Linked DNA regions of Homo sapiens. The protein of the gene in region 1 binds, or shares a complex with, the protein of each later gene. Links are inferred from orthologs where the notes say so. Each region holds a gene or a part of one and is shown on either strand. Other genes may lie near its edges.

What was found. The genes of interacting proteins can lie anywhere in the genome.
Region 2: the proteins of PTP4A1 (region 1) and CNNM2 are in contact, whole or in part, in a crystal structure (PDB 5MMZ), measured with the Mus musculus proteins. The link is inferred for Homo sapiens from one-to-one orthologs. Residues at the interface, in NP_035330.1 of Mus musculus: Asp72, Gly73, Ala74, Gly107, Leu108, Gly109, Arg110, Arg137, Arg138, Gly139, Ala140, Phe141, Asn142, Lys144, Gln145; in NP_291047.2 of Mus musculus: Phe526, Asp528, Val551, Asn553, Glu556, Gly557, Asp558, Pro559, Phe560, Tyr561.

The regions. Positions count from the first base shown.
Region 1 is NC_000006.12:63,566,907-63,575,499, forward strand, and holds the start of PTP4A1 (protein tyrosine phosphatase type IVA 1), read left to right. Parts: upstream 1-5,573; 5' UTR 5,574-5,774; coding exon of another isoform or gene 5,775-6,524; exon of another isoform or gene 6,525-6,625; coding exon of another isoform or gene 6,626-6,662; exon of another isoform or gene 6,663-6,701; intron 6,702-8,593. Other genes in the region: uncharacterized LOC128125822, read left to right, coding at 5,775-5,813; translation initiation factor IF-2-like, read right to left, coding at 5,779-6,524, 6,626-6,662. UniProt on the Homo sapiens protein: Protein tyrosine phosphatase which stimulates progression from G1 into S phase during mitosis. May play a role in the development and maintenance of differentiating epithelial tissues.
Region 2 is NC_000010.11:103,082,136-103,089,728, reverse strand, and holds part of CNNM2 (metal transporter CNNM2), read right to left. Parts: 3' UTR 58-7,593; coding exon of another isoform or gene 1-57. Other genes in the region: NT5C2 (cytosolic purine 5'-nucleotidase), read left to right, coding at 1-57.

The sequences.
Region 1 (8,593 bases):
TCAACAATGCTTACGGCATCTTCACCAGCAGTAGATTCTATCTCAAGAAACCACTCTCTTTTCTCCTTCATAAGAAGCAACTCCTCATTCATTCAAGTTTGATCATAAAATTGCAGCGATTTAGTCAACTCTTCAGACTCTGTTTCTAACTCCAATTGTCTTGCTATTTTCACCATATTTGTAGTGATTTCCTCCACTGAAGTCTTGAACGCCCTCAAGGTCATCCATGAGAGTTGGAGTTAACTTCTTTCAAACTCCTGTTCATGCTGATACTTTTACCTCCTCTCATGAATGTTCTTAATGGCATCTAGAATCCTTTCCAGAATGTTTTTGGTTTACTTTGCTTAGATCCATCAGAGGAATCACCATCTACAGCAATTTATAACCTTATGAAATGTACTTGTTAAATATTAAAACCTGAAAGTCAAAATTATTCCTTGATCCATGGGTTGCAGAATGGATGCTGTGTTAGAAGGCATGAAAACAATATTACTCTCCTTGTACATCTCCATCAGAGCATTTCAGTGACCATGTGCATTGTCAAGGAGCAATAGTATTTTTAAATAAATCACGTTTTATCAGTAGGTCTCAACAGTGGACTTAAAATATTTAGTGAGCCATGCTAAACAGATGTGCTGTCAACCAGGTTTTGTTCTTCCACTTATAGAGCACAGCAGAGTAGATTTAGCATAATTTTTAAGGGTCCTAGGATTTTCAGAATGGTAAATGAACATCTGCTTCAACTTAAAGTCACCAGCCACATCAGCCCCTAACAAGAGAACTGCCTGTCCTTCGAAGCTTTGAAGCCAAGCATTGACTTCTATAGCTATGAAAGTCTTGGACAGCATCTTCTTCCAGTATAAGACTGTTTTGTCTACATTGAAAATCTGTTATTTAGTGTAGCCACCTTCATCAATGTTCTTGGCTAAATCTTCTCAATAACTTGCTGCAGCTTCTCCATCAGCACTTACTGCTTCACCTTTCATTTTTATGTTAGGGAGAGGGCTTCTACTCTTAAACCTCATGAATCCACCTCTGCTATCTTCAGACTTTTCTTCTACAACTTCCTCACCTCTCTCAGCCTTCATAAAAATGAAGAGAGTTAAGGCCTTGCTCTGAATTAGGCTTTGACTTAAGAGAATGCTGTGGCTGGTTTTCTATCCAGAACTCTAAAACTTTCTCCTTATCAACAATGAGGCTGTTTCACTTTCTTATCATTCCTGTGTTCACTGGAGTGGCACTTTTAACTTCCTTCAAGAGCTTTTCCTTGGCATTCACAACTTGACTGTTTTGGGTATGAGGCCTAGTTTTCGGCCTATCTCTGCTTTCAACTTGCCTTACTCAGCTTAATCATTTTTAGCTTTGATTTAAAGTGAGAGATGAATGACTCTTCCTTTCACTTGAACACTCAGAGGCCACTGTAGGGTTATTAATTGGCCTAATTTCAGTATTGCTGTGTCTCACTGAGGGACTGGCCCATCAGCGGAGCAGTCAGAATATATTCAACATTTATCAAATAAGTTTGCCATCTTAAATGGGTACAGTTTGTGGTGGCCCAAAACAATTCCAATAACAATATCAAAGATCACTGTTCACAAATTGCCATAACAAATGCAATAATAATTTAAAAGTTTGAAATATTGGGAGAATTACCAAGATGTAACACAGAGACATGAAATGAGCACATGCTATTGGAAAAATGGCTCTGATAGACTTGCTCGACAAAAAGCTGTCACAAACCATCATTTTGTTAAAAAAAAAAAACAATATTTGCAAAGCACAATAAATGAAGGTATGCCTGTATACTACATATTTATTTTTAATAATCATATAAGAAAATTAATTGGATATAAAATAGGCTGTTCTAAAACAGCAAGAGGGAAATAAACTTTAACAATGCTGACAGCAGCCATGGCATACTTGAATTTTTAGGACTCTTGTTAAATATGGGTATGGGAACTTACCCTCTGCACTAGTATCCAGACACTTACTAGATTATGGCCCATTGGGGTATTTGCCTCTATTACATATATTTGCTAGACTGTCATTATACCTTGCAATCTAGTGTCTTTTTCTAGGTTGATATTGTCACGTTTAATCTATTATGGCAATGATATTACTCTTGCTATGTTAAATGTTTTTATCAGACTTCCTTGTAGCCCCAACCAATCTGAGAAGATTGAAAATCAAGGAATCCTTCACTCCTTTTGTAAACTTGGTAAAATGGAATCAATGTTTACTAGATCTGCTGTTCTTGTGAAGATTTCTCTGTTCTTCTTCATCAAGATTTGCCAATCTTCCTCTGCACTCTTGCCTTCTGCAGTCTTTCCTCTTCCATAAAAATATCGCTTATAATATTCTTTTTTTGAAATGAAGTCTCACTCTGTCTCCCAGGCTAGAGTGCAGTGCCATGATCTCGGCTCACTGCAGCCTCTGCCTCCCAGCTTTCCAGTGATTCTCCTTCTTCAGCCTCCCAAGTAACTGGGATTAGAGGTGCCTGCCACCATGCCCAGCTAATTTTTTGTATTTTTAGTAGAGATGGGTTTCACCATGTTGACCAGGCTGGTCTTGAACTCCTAACTCCTAATCTCAGGTGATCCACCCACCTTGGTCTCCCAAAGTACTGGGATTACAGGCATGAGCCTGTATGCCACCATGCTCAACTTCCTTATAATATTCTTCTAGTCTTATTTCCCAACTGCTGGCTTTTATATTTTGAATTGTCAATAGAAAGCCCTGCCTATCGTGATGAGGTTAAGGACACATGTTTTGCTGAGAGAAGTAACTTCCAGCTGAGAATCTTGTTTAGCAGGAGAGAAAATCCTCTATTTTAGAGCCTCTCCTGGAGCTTAGAGTAAGCATTGGCTTTTAGAGGTGTTTTCTCCCTTTTTGATGTCTGGAAGCACTATTTTCAAGTCTGTTAGAGACCCACTTTAAATAAGTACAGGTGCTAATGCTCTGAGTGCAAGTCTGTAAGGGTTAGTGAGTCCTCAAATCACAGAAGTCTCCTGACCAATGCTGGGATGTTCTACTGTTCTCCAAGAATCTGCAGCTTAAAAGTATTAAACTAAATACAGCAGACACCCTCAGCATAGCAGTGAACCACAATGGCAGCTGACAAGCAGGAACATTTAATGGATTGGTCAGCAAGACCACACTTATATCTTGTTTAAAATGTGTCCTTTCCTTTGGGAGACTGAGGCAGGCAGATCTCTTGAGGTCAGGAGTTCAAAACTAGCCTAGTCAACATGGAGTTTTCTAAAAGTACAAACAAATTAGCCAGGTGTGGTGGCAGGTGGCTGTAATCCCAGCTACTTGGGAGGCTGAGGCAGGAGAATTGCTGGAACCCAGGAGGCTGAGGTTGCAGTGAGCAAAGATTGCACCACTGTGCTCCAACCTGGGCAAAAGAGCAAGACTCCATCTCAAATAAATACATAAAATAAAATGCATCGTTTCTCTCAACAGCAAAAGCCTTATTTTTTCATCCTTTAAATATGTTACTTTCATAGTAGGATAAGATGGTACCTTGTCTGAGAGGCTAAGACCCCCAGGCCACTTGAGAATTTGAGAGCTTTTAGAACTTGATGAGCATAGCTGACTGGATACTTCGTGTCAGCACTGCTTGTGGTAATTACAGGATCTGTGGATCACAAGGCTCACAACTTGTATCACAAGTTCTACAAGAAAATTGGCTAACACATATTTGGCTCTGTTAATCATTTGCTGAGTTTATATCTTGTCCCACCAAATGTATTTTTTGAAATGCCATTACATGAAAAAGTTTCACTATTCCAATTATCTGTGTTTACCAACTTGTGGAGTAAGAGTGGCTGACTGAATATGTGCTTTTTAACTACACTATTATATACATTGGCCAAGCTTTTTATATTAACCCTACCCATGAAGTATCACCAATATTTCCCCCAGTGTGAAATTGACATTTGTCAAAAGCCTTTTGCCATATAAAAGTTTTTAGTTCTTATATATGAAATCTGTCCCTTTTTTTCGACATGAGTTCCCCAGCCTGCTTAGCTTTGCCCCTACCACCCAAGATTTTTAAGCTTTCTATATTTTCTTAGAATTTAAGATTTTAAAGTCTTTACTTTTTTAAATCATTTATTTGTAAAGGGACATATTTCTCAAGTGTGCTAGTTTTCCTTGATTTTAATGGATTAAAATGTGTCGTAGGTGAGCCATTTTCTTCCAAATGACGAAGAGTTTTTGTTCCTTTGAAAGTCTGGCCCAGGATTTTGTTTGTTTTTGTTTTTTTAAAGTTCTTATTTTACTTACAGAGTTAAGAAAGTTGAATAACTATACAACCAGTCTCTAAATAGAAGTTCTAATAAATCCTAAGATGTTGCAGGGCACTGAAAGAGGACAAAATTTGATCCCTAAAGCCCTCTCCAATCTCATACTCGGTGAAAATAACAAACAAAAGGCTTCAGTGTTAGTGGAAAACTGAGTTCTTAAAAAGCAGGTAAAGGTCCTGTTTGGTCCTTCTCCAGAGCTGAGGAGAAAGGGTTTTCAGATTATAAATAACAGAGGTGCCCTTGTATGGCACAGAATTGCGATAAGACTTTACTTCTTAGGGGCTTAAATAATGAAGTCAGTAAAAGAGGACTGAAAACGAACATAAAGAAGAGCTTTAGCTTTGACGCAAAGAATTACATCAGTGCTTGACAAAACCGAGGATTCTTAATTTCTAAAAACGCTTTCTTTAAGCACTTCCTAACCTTTCATTATCTGAGACAACATATCAAGTGAGCAGCAGTACAAAGGATGCATGTGATTTCGAAATGCCACAATTGAGCCAACTGCAGTTGCACGCGTACGTAGTATAGAGAGGTGTGATCAAAAAAAGAATATAGGGAGCATAGGGCTTCGTCTGCATCAAAAGATACTCTCCCCATCTTCTATAGCCTTAAGTTTTGCGAAGGTAAGTTTCTCCCCGCTTGAAAGCGCCCCCAGGGACAAGAATTCATCTTGACCAAGCCTAAGGCCGTGGCATGCAAGGTGTTGAGTCACCGGGTACAGCGGTCTTGCGACATAAATATTATTTGATGACGAAGGTACTCGGGGCCCAGGTGCCAAGGTAAACCACTGGCAAAGATGACCGTGGTTAAGGCAGTAGAAAGCAGGCTCGACACTGAGACGCGGTTCCAGCCCTAGAAGGATTGCATTTTACGATTCAGGCAAACTTCGAGTCTCCTCATGTGACATGTGTGCACTCCTGGACCGTTTTAATTATGAGAAACGTGGTTTGCAGCATGATTCCTTCCAGTCGATAAATCGGAATCTCTCTCGCTCCCACCCCTTCTTAACTTCAGGCTTCCTGCATCCCGGAGCACTCCCGGCAGCCCCTTCCCTCCCCCGCCCCGGGGATGCTCCGACTCGGCGCTTAGCCATTCATCAACCGGTTCACACCGGCGGCGGCCGCCGCGGAGTGACGTCCGGAGGGGGCGGGCCTCCGCCCCCGCCTGTCGGCTCCTGGCCCGCGGTTCCAGGCCGCGATTGGTGGCTGGAGGGTTGCACGTCGCGCCGGCTATAAAGGGGAGGGCTTGTGACGCAAGGGCGCCTCGGCGCGTGTATTGGCTCCTTCGGCTGCGGGCCGGCTCGGCTACGCGCTCTGCTCCGAGCCGCTCACTGCATGGTAGAGTCTGGTGCCCCCGCCGCCGCCTGCATCGCCGCCACCGCCGCTCCGCCACGACCACCGCCGCCTCCTGCCCTGCAGCCACCGCCACCGCCTGTGTCGCCGCCGCCTCGGGACCGGCTGTATGATTAGGCCACAATCTTCAATGAGTAAACATATTCCTGTGAGTAGCCGTCGCATCGTCGCCTCTCGGGCTGGGAATCCACGACCGGCCCCCCATCCCCGCTGTCGCCTTTGTTCGGAGCCCGGCGTCTCCTCCAGGTTGCCCCGGGTTGCGGTTCCGGTGGGTCCCGGGTGGGAGCGGGCGGGTTATGGCCCTGTGGCCGGCCGATTGCGGCCGGCTGTGCGGAGGCAGATGCCGGGCCCCTCGGGGCTGCGGGGTGGCGGTTGGCCGCCGGAGGCACCGGCTTTTGAGTCCCTCCCGAGCCCGGAGCGACGGGGGCGGCGCGGTCCGGCTTCTGCGGCGGCCGGGGGCAGTTTCGGCTTCCGCAGCGGGCCGGGTGGGTGGCACAAAAGCCGCTTTGTGACCGCCGCCTCCGCCCTTGGCCCTTTGGTCTGGCGCGACCCGTCCGGGCATGGCAGGCTCCGCGGCGTCCCGGGGCCTCTTTGTTCGGCCGGAGGAGAGTGGCTGCACTGGGAGCGGGAGACGTGGCCCGGGGTGGGGCGAGGGCTGCGCGTGTCACTGCGGAGCCGGATACGGGGAGGGCGCGGCGGTGGCGGGTTCGCCTCCAGATCCGGGCGGGCGTGGGGTAGGCCGGACAGCCAGGCACGGGTGGTAACGATCTGGTTCCAGAGCTTCTCGGAGCTCCGGGGTGGGCGCGGGACAGCCACTGGGTGCAGCTACACTCTTGTGCTCGACGGCCGGGACCCGAGCCTCAGACAAAATGGCCTCGGCGCCCGCGCCTGACTGAAGGCGCGGCGCGAACCCGTGATTGCGGCGCGGAGAGGGGGCGCAGCGGGCGTGCTCGGGCGCACACAGCCGCGTGCGCGGGGCGGCGGCCCTCTGGGGCATTCCGCGAGCTGCACCCCTGCCCGGGCCAGAGTGGGGTTCTGCTAGGTGAGAACTTCGGCCGTCCGCCCCGCCCTCCTCCCAGGCTCCACCTGGTAATTCGAGCTGTTCCGGATTTATCGCCCCACCTCGGGCTCGTGATAATGGGAACAAGTCTAGTCTTGTCCTTTCTCTGGGCCAGTCGTCGAGAAATGGCCTGGTTCGGAGCGTCTTGGAAACTGACAGGGCTACTGTTAGTTACACTGACGCGAAGGACTTCCCGTCCGGGCACCAGCATACATTTCCCCTGCCAATTTTGGAAGGGCCCTGGATGGCGCCTTTTAATCGGGGACTGTTTAGAACTATCCCTGAGCTCTGTGGTGTAATATGTTGTTGCCTCCTGTTGGTTTGTGGCAGCAGTAGCCAACCAGAGACGGAATTCTGAGGGTTTTTTATCTTCTGTCCGCGGAGCCCCCTACCAGTCCACGAGTATTAAGTTATTTACACTACGATTGGAACTGTTGACCTGCCCGACATCTAGATCCTGAGGCAGTGCTTCCTGTTACTCAGTCAGTTGAAAACTAGAAAACTAAATCATTCCCAAGAGTGAGCAGCATTTTACACATGCTTTCTTAGGTGCCCTAAGACCTAAATAGATGTGGAACAGACTATACAACGAATTGTTTGTGACAAAGGAGTTACACACATTAATTGGCTTGACTCTGCAGTATAATAATGATTTAAGCTTCTGCACAGAGATTACTCTTTCCTCCTCTCCCTTCTTGTATATGATTGTGATTATAATGCAACTGATAGGTGGGAGGGAAAAAATCCCCATTATGGATAGTTTTTCCTGTGGGTAGGAGATTGGGAATGGAGGAGTGTCTTGGGCGGAACAGAAATCTATCGGTGGCCACCACTGCTTTAACAGACGAGTCCCCCCATCCACTAGGTGGCTCCACTCAGTAAAAATAACCATTTCAGGAAGGGAATTCTTAATATAGTTCTTTCTCTGCTTCCTGATGAAAGTGCTTACTTACATGAAGGGATATGGCCAGACTAGGTTGTAGCCGACAGGAGTTTTAGCTATTAAATATGGAAATAGTGGTGTGAAATACTGCCTCAAATTAGCTTTTAATTGAAAAAAAGGTAATACCTAGAAATTAGAATACTGTGATGAGTCATTATAAAGCTTTTAAAGATCATTGTATGTCATTGGGAAAGTGTCAGAATACACTTTTTATTCTACGGAGGTTGTATTTAGAATTTGGGGTGAAAGTATAATGAAATTATTTTCAGATTACTACAATCTGTATTCACTGTAACTGTGATGGCTTTGTAATTTAGACACTTAATTTTTTAACCCAGCTGACCAACTAGGTGAAGTAACCTCTGAGGGCTTGTTTGAACAAACTTGTGATAATGAAAGTTACCTTTTTTATGGGACCTTTTGATAAATGATTGTTAATGCTAGTTGTATGTTTTACCAGAAAAGTAGACTGGGTTTTTGACTTGATGTTTTCTGCAGTAATCATCATAAGAATTATTCTTCAAAATTTAGCAAAGTTCTAGAAACTATAACTAGCATGGGACTATTTAAAGGTGTAAAATGGAAATGGGAGCAGATCGTTTGAATTTTAATTTTAAGACTTCAAATGCTTAAATTTAAGCATGGAAACTAATGGAACCTTTTGTTAAAACACTTTGGTAATGAGAGTACACATGAAGTGCTTGAGGCAGTGACTATGAATTACTGCTCTTGTTAACCTGTTATTAATACTTTCCTTAGTGCCCTCTTTACTCCCGAGTACACAAGTACCTTATAAACTATTTGGAAGAAGACTGATTATTAACATCAGTGTCTTCCATGTACATATTTTAAAAATATGCTGTGACTATTGGTTTAATGTTTGATATTGGCATAAAAATGGTTTAGTTCTTAAGGGGGAACTTAG
Region 2 (7,593 bases), on another chromosome or scaffold:
ATTACACACTGCCATGACGAAGATGATGATGAAGAGGAGGAGGAGGAGGAAGAATAAGGAGGAAAACCAAAACCCCAAGCACCCATTAAACAAGTCCTGGCAGGACTCACAGGAACAAACGAGGTCCCTGTTAGGGTTCTACTCGGGGGAGGGAGGGGGCTCCATGAAAGGTACGTCTGAAAAGTTTCTGAAGATTTTATTATCATAGATACTTGTTTTGGTTTTGTGTATCTGTACTCTCTGCAGATGGTCCAAAATTGTAATGGAGTCTGTATTAGAAGAAAATAAGGGTAAAATCAGGCTGAACTGCATGTATATGGCTCCACTGTGGCTTGTGACACTTTTAAAATCATCCGTATGTCAGTGTATCTGGATACACGAGGAAAAGGAAAGAGTCTCAGAGTGGAACAAAGAGTGGGAAGAGGTGATCTGTAATGTTACAAATTGTGCTATTACTCCAAGGTCCAACTTTTCCAGTGCATTACATGGTATTGTATATCAGTGGAGAAATGTATTATTTCCATGATCAAATGTAGTCTCTGTTAAGGTCAAGTTTTCTTTTATAAGCCTTTAATTCATCCTCAGTGACTCTGGCAAGGCTGCTTCTCTATCACTGGCTTTGCACAGAAGTATGCTCTACTTGCGTTGCTTTAGGGCAGGATTCTATTTTGAGGGAAAAGACAGTATCCTTATTACCTTTTGTTTGTTTAATAGCACAAATGCTTATTTGTTATCCAAAAACAACCTCCTTCTTATCTGTGATAAATCTATAGAAAGAATTTAGCTGCAAGTGGACAAAGGAACAAGCCCCCAGAAAAGAAAGGGAAGAACTGCCTTCTTATACTACAGAACATGCATTAGTGTGGGCTATATAGCTGTGGCTCATGCTACCCAATTCCAGATTTCTTTGTCCTCTAAGAGTTGATTGCTGTATATTAAAATTGAACATCAGAGGATGGGAAGAGGGCTCTGTAAGCCAGAACCTTACTAAAGTAGAGGGCACAATCAGTGTGAATAAATTCACTTCAGAATCTCAAGTCAAGGCCAGGCACGGCGGCTCACGCCTGTAATCCCAGCACTTTGGGAGGCCGAGACAGGCGGATCACCTGAGGTCGGGAGTTCGAGACCAGCCTTACCAACATGGAGAAACCCCATCTCTACTAAAAATACAAAATTACCTGGGCGTGGTGGTGCATGCCTGTAATCCCATCATCTACTCAGGAGGCTGAGGCAGGAGAATTGCTTGAACCCAGGAGGCGGAGGTTGCAGTGAGCCAGGATTGTGCCATTGCACTCCAGCCTGGGCAACAAGAACAAAACTCCATCTCAAAAAATAAAAATCCCAATCCCAAGTCGAAATCACCTCTTGTTTTAAACAAGAATGAATCATTACTGTGTATGTTAGGGTATTAAAACTGTTTCACCAGTACAGTGAAAGTTGTTTCAACATTTTAAACAAACAGTGGTTATAGACTCTTTCTTTAACCATTGTATATTTTCTTCCATTCTTGTCATTGGTCAATAGGGGAGGGTAGATTAGCTGCTCCAGAATTCAATAAAGTGTAATATTTCTAACGGTGACTTTGACCTATTCTGTAGTACAACTGTAATAGCTATTGGTCTTCAAGTGGGTTTAGATTTGGTGACATCAGTTTGATATTCTCTTAAAGGAAATAAATATTCAAGAACTGATTATGTTCTAACATGATTATATTCATGGTGTTACATAGGCCTCAATTTTTTCACAGAAAGATTTTTGGAACAGGACTGTGAAGTGAGGCTTTTTAAAAAATTATTTTATAAGCAGAGAACACAGCCTGATAACTTAGTCAAGGATATACTGTCTGTCTCACTACTTTGGACTTATATGGCTTCAGATTAAGTCATCCAAGAAACATACATACATTCTAAATGGTATATATTGGGAATATATGCCCCTTTAAAAGAATCAGGTCAGAAATGCAATAACAATTAGACTAGACTGTTGCCCGTGTTAGGAGAATGTGTGGTCATCCTAGTTACTAATTACTCTCACTCAAGATGGAGATGTTGTCCAGTTTAACATAGTCTTAAGTTTTCTTAAACCCAAATAATTTATGAGTAGCTTATTACATCTGCAGAGCTACCTTATTATAATAGTACATTTACATATTGTCTCTTTTAGAGTAAGGACCACATGATTGCTTTGCTTTAATTTACCACTTTTTGTATTGCATCCATATAAGAGTGTCTTACTAGCCAGATGATTCCATGGCAAATGATTCTCTGGGTCCAAAGATCGGAAAGTGAAAAGCACACAGCTGGAATAAGCAACAACTCCACTGCTAGTTACAGCTCTCCGTAGGACCACCAAAACGTATTCAAGAGCTCTAGGATTCCATAAGACCCAGAGCAAAATGGTGCCTCTCTGTATATTATTCTTAAGAGTGTGCTGGGAAGTCAATGGTCCATGGGTAGGCAGGGCAGCTGTAACTGGGCTTTTTAAAACAAATTATGAGTTTTCTCTCTGTTGCCAGTAGTTAAGGAAGCTGAACTTAAAAGGTATACTTTTTTCCTTAAAAAAAAAAAAAAAAAAAAAAAAAAAAAAAATCCTGCGGAGTTTTATACCGTGAGAAGACCATTCTGCCACTTCTTTTGAGAATTTTTTCCCAGGCATTTTGAAAACACTATAGGCATTGTAGAACACCAGGCAACCCCTTCTTGGTTGCTAGACTGAACTCCCAACCTTACAGCATGTACTGACAGGTCCCCTAGCCTCCCCAGCAGTTGGTCAGTGGTACAGCAGACCCAGGCCCTGCTGGGTTTCCTTGGGCAGAGGAATTGCCCAGTACATTCATTCATCTCTGCAAAGATAGATAGTCAGTGAAAACTCTGATGGTGTACTTCAGAAAAGTTGGTCACAGCCAAGAAAGTTTAGGGTTCTATTTAGACCTAAGATTTTTCTCTTGCCATAAGCATACCTCTGCTGAGACCTAAAATAATAACGCAAACCCTTCAAGCTACCCTAAGATACTTTTAGAAGTCGTTTTTAATAGAACTACAAATCCTTAAGTCACATTAGCATTGTTAAGAAACCACTTTAAAAAGCCACATGCAGTTGCATGTCAGATTTAGAAGTATTTTGTCCATGTTTAGGTATTTCTAAATCAGATGTATTTATTTAAGAAATACTTTGTCAACAACTTTAAAGCCCAGCAATTTTTCCAAGGCTGCCTGGTCATTTTAAAATAAATACTCTGCTTATTCACCACGAATAGCCTGAGACAACTACATATTTAAGTCTGTATTAGGGTAGGAACCTTACCCACATTCCATGTTATGGAAACTATTTAATCTGTCTTTGATGGTGGGAAAAATGGTAACTATGATCTAGCTATTGCCATACAGTTAACGCTCCAATTCCTCACTGGGCTTAGTAGTTTAGGGCTCAAATACTTATGTTTCTCATGATGATCTTTAGTGGTGATCAGGGAATCCAGCTTTTCTTAAAAGTTTTTCCTCAAATAGAACAATTTCAAATGATACACAACTTTTGGGAGGCCCTGAGAGTGAAATCTCTACCATGGAGCTACCAGAGCAACCCTGCAGATAGAAGAAAAACATGCACTACTGCTAAGGAGCAGGGATGACCACAGGCACAGGCAACCAGAAAGCAGAAACAGGTGACTTCCAGAAACCCCCGCTGCCCCGTCACGCACCTCCCGTAACAAGAACGCAGCACGTCACACAGTTCTCGCGCTGCTAGGTATCTAGAAACAGCAGAAAGCAAGTCCTTTAAACAGGCAGCATGTTCATTTATAGAATGAGTAAAAAGCTTTTCTATTCTTTAACCTGGATTTCTCAACCATTTTTCCCTGTCCTCACACACAATGTCTTCATCCCAAGGCCACAACAGTCTGATTCATTCCAACAAAGGTATGTGATCTCAAAAATAAAATATATACAGAAGTTTCTCTGTAGAGCTTTAACACAAAAAAGTACTCCCCATTGAACACAAACATTTCATCTCAAACTTGCTGACTCTGTTTAAGGATGAGGAATCTATGTTTTCCAATTTAAATTTAAAACACAATGATGAATTTTGAATCTCGTCCCTTTGTTTCTTCACACAAAATAACTAGGTACAACTATGTCCCCAGATGTTCTGGTCTCCCATGGAGCTCTTCCCAAAGCCATGTCTGGCGAGGGGAGTAGACAAGGCCTGAGATAAACCTTCCCACACAAACTGGAGCCCAAGCAGCTGAGCACACATTTTTCCCACGAAAGGCAGCAATAGTCCTTCCACGTCTCACAAGTTCTTGAGATACTTGGAAAGAAGATTTGCCAAGCAAACCTTCCCCACACTGAAAAATGTTTACTCAGTGTCCAGTCTTTGAGAGAGTGTTCTCACCAGAGTTATCTTTGACTTGAGTGTGTGGGTATCTTTAAACAAGTCACTTTTTGGACCCACTGACCTCAAGTCAATGACTTAGTAGAACTGCAGTAGGAAAACTGGCCCCATCTAAAATTTCCTATCATGTGTTGGCCTCCTGTTTGAACACTGCACAGTCACTAATACCCTGACAGGAAAAGCACTTCAGAAGTCGGGCAACTAATTCTCCCTTAGAAACGTGCATCCTCAGTCCTCAGTAATCCACTAGGGGAGATGGCATGCCAGCAGAAAGTCAGAGAAAAGGGCCCTAGAACCATCCCTTTGTCCTGGGACTGCTTGAAAATAAGAGCACAGATATGAGGCCCTTGGAGGGAAAATGACAAAACCACCATACAAAGAAAGCAAAAGAGTTTATTATCCACCTAATAGAATTCAACTTTTTGGCTTTAATAAAGAATCATCTCTTTTAAATTACCTTCAAAAAGTATAAAATAAGTTTCCAGAAATCAACTCCAGGCTATAAAAAGGTCAGTTTTTAACCACTTTCTCTACAAGACCCTCTGATCAATATTTGTTTCCTCAGAAGTGCCGAGTTGAAAAACGGCTCTAGGGAGCACAATTTTTGTGAAATAGAAACCCCGGGTGCATCACGATAAAGCTTAGAAATGAGCGGATGTGTGCGCACTCTGAGGATGCAGGGGGGAGTTTTAGGCAAATCTCATCTTGACAGCAGGAAAAATTGCCTCCATTTTCCTTGGAGCATTTCCTGATTTGAGCTAAGGGCTCATCTAGACCAAGTGAGTAAAACAGGAAAAACAAACCAAGGCAGGAGGCTGGGAGTGAATGTGCTACCATGATTTCTTTCCCTAGCTCTGCTGCCACTTTCTGCCCTGCTTCTAATGAAAGCAAGCAGGGTTCGAAGACAGCATTTCACTGGGCTAAGATACACCTCATTCTACTTTCAGGTAGTTGGGCGATACCTGGGGAGATGGGAGCGGTAGTTAGGTCAGGCAGTGTCTGAAAGCCAATTCTGTCAGCAGTTCTTCCCTGAAATGTCTCCATCCACAGAACAAGTGTAAGTAAAAGACTGCAAATGCCACGGTTAAATAAATTCAGTGGAGACTATAAATGGACCAGTCAAGAGGCTAAATTTTCAGAGCACGATCCTCTTTGGAATGTAAAATAGAGACTAAAAGTGGAGAGAAAAGGGATTCCAAAAAGATGTGGTTTAGGAATGGATCACAGAGGGTCCCTGAAGCTCCACCGTAAGTTCTTCAGGGACTGGTCTCATGTGAGTGATGAGGGTAAGAAGGAACAGAAGACAAAGTAGTGATGGAAAAGAACGTGTATCATACACACCGATTACTGGGGAATGCAGGATATCCACTGAATCCTGAAGACCCACCTGCACACGCCTCGCCACACTCAGGCCGGATGTTTTCCACTTGAAAGTGACTATCCATGCCTGCTCCGACCTTCCTCCCAGGCTTAGCATAGCAGAGGAGGACCTATAAAGCCATCCTTGTTTTCAAGAGCCAATTGAGAGGCCTGAATGAGACCTTTGGTCTTACCTAGGAAATGCCGGCTTAGCCCAGCGGCACTGTGTGTTGTTATTAGTGACTGAGCAGCCAATGTCTGGGGCAATTTGACTGGATACTCCGAATGTTCTTATGTAGAGAGTAACTGATGGAGAACAGATTATAATCCTTGCAAAGAAGGACACCTTCCCCCTAGGATTGGCTGTACCAGGCTGTGACTTGGAGGCACAGAACTAGTACCCACTTCTCTTAAGACTTTACACTGTCCAAAGAAGATGCTCTTCTATGTTGTCATGCTGAGATCCAGTCCCAGCTTTCCCACCAGCAAAGCCAGGCAAGTGGGTAGGGCAGTTGGTTCAGCCAAGCTGAATACAATGGCATGGTTGGTGTTGCACAGATGAAAGGGAAGAGGGAACACACATCTGCTAGCAGGGTGAACAGAACATCATTTATCTAAATAGAATAGAAATAAACAAAAACCTTGTAAAACAATCACAAAATTTACAAATAAATTGGTACAAAATAAATAGGAGAGACTGTACATCTACATCATTTGAATTATAAAATGCATTCATTAAGACAATCAGCTCAATCCTATACATGTCATTTGTGCTTATTTAGGTTTATGTACACAGCTCTGAATACTGTGTTCAGAAAACTTCACTGCTCAAATGCATGACCTGTACACTATGATACAGTGAATAAAGGCTGAGGAGGATCAAAGTCAGACACAAAGCAGGGTCTTACTTGAGGGCCAAGGCAATGTTGGCACTGGGCCTCAAAACCAAGAAAAGGCATATTAAGAGCCCAGATAGGCAGGCAGCTTCCATTATCCAGAAAGATGGATTATGCAATCTAAGGTAAGTGGAAGAAACCATTATCACTGTGGGGCCAGGCAAGTGACCTGCCTTGGGAGGAGGGAGGCCGTGGACTCACAGCTGTACTGTACCCTACATAGGGGAAGAGAGCCTGTCACCAAGAAACCACCTTGGAAATATTTCATGGAGGTACTTGAGAGGCCCTGCCCACAAGGTAGGAGACCTGCCTCCATCCTCATCCAAAACACTGGTCATAAGGAATACAGGTGGGCCCAACTAAAGGGGCTGGGGATGCTAGGGCCAACATAAAAGCAGCAACCTGTTTATAAAAAACAACACTACCCTCTCACCCGCCTTAAAGGACAGCAGAACCCTAGGATCCATGGATGAGGAAGCTTCAAGACAGACCTTGTCCTAGTCACAGACGAAGTACTAACAGGCATATGTACATAATAAATAATATAAAATAAAGCATATACATTTGTGGGTTTAAAGGACTCAAACAAGAAAAAATTGATAACTTCACCTTCACAGTAGATTCAGACTTGGGGAGTAATGATCAGAAGCGAGGCTGGGGCTCTCTGGGGAATGAGAATCCTAAGACCTCATTCTTCCCAACTTTGCTCTGCTCTAGAAGTCTGAGCCTCCAACAAAAAAGGCAGGCACCCAAGCCCCACCAGGCCCATTGGATAGTTCTCTTCAGGGTGAATCTGCAGCCAAATCTGGCCCCCAAAGAACTGCATCCTAAAAGTGAATCCATGTGGATCAGATGCCGGAAGGCGTCCTTCCAAGCGAGGCAAGACAATGCTCCCATTCTTCTCATTTGTTCACGGTCCCAATGGGCATTAAAACCTGAAAACCTTGTG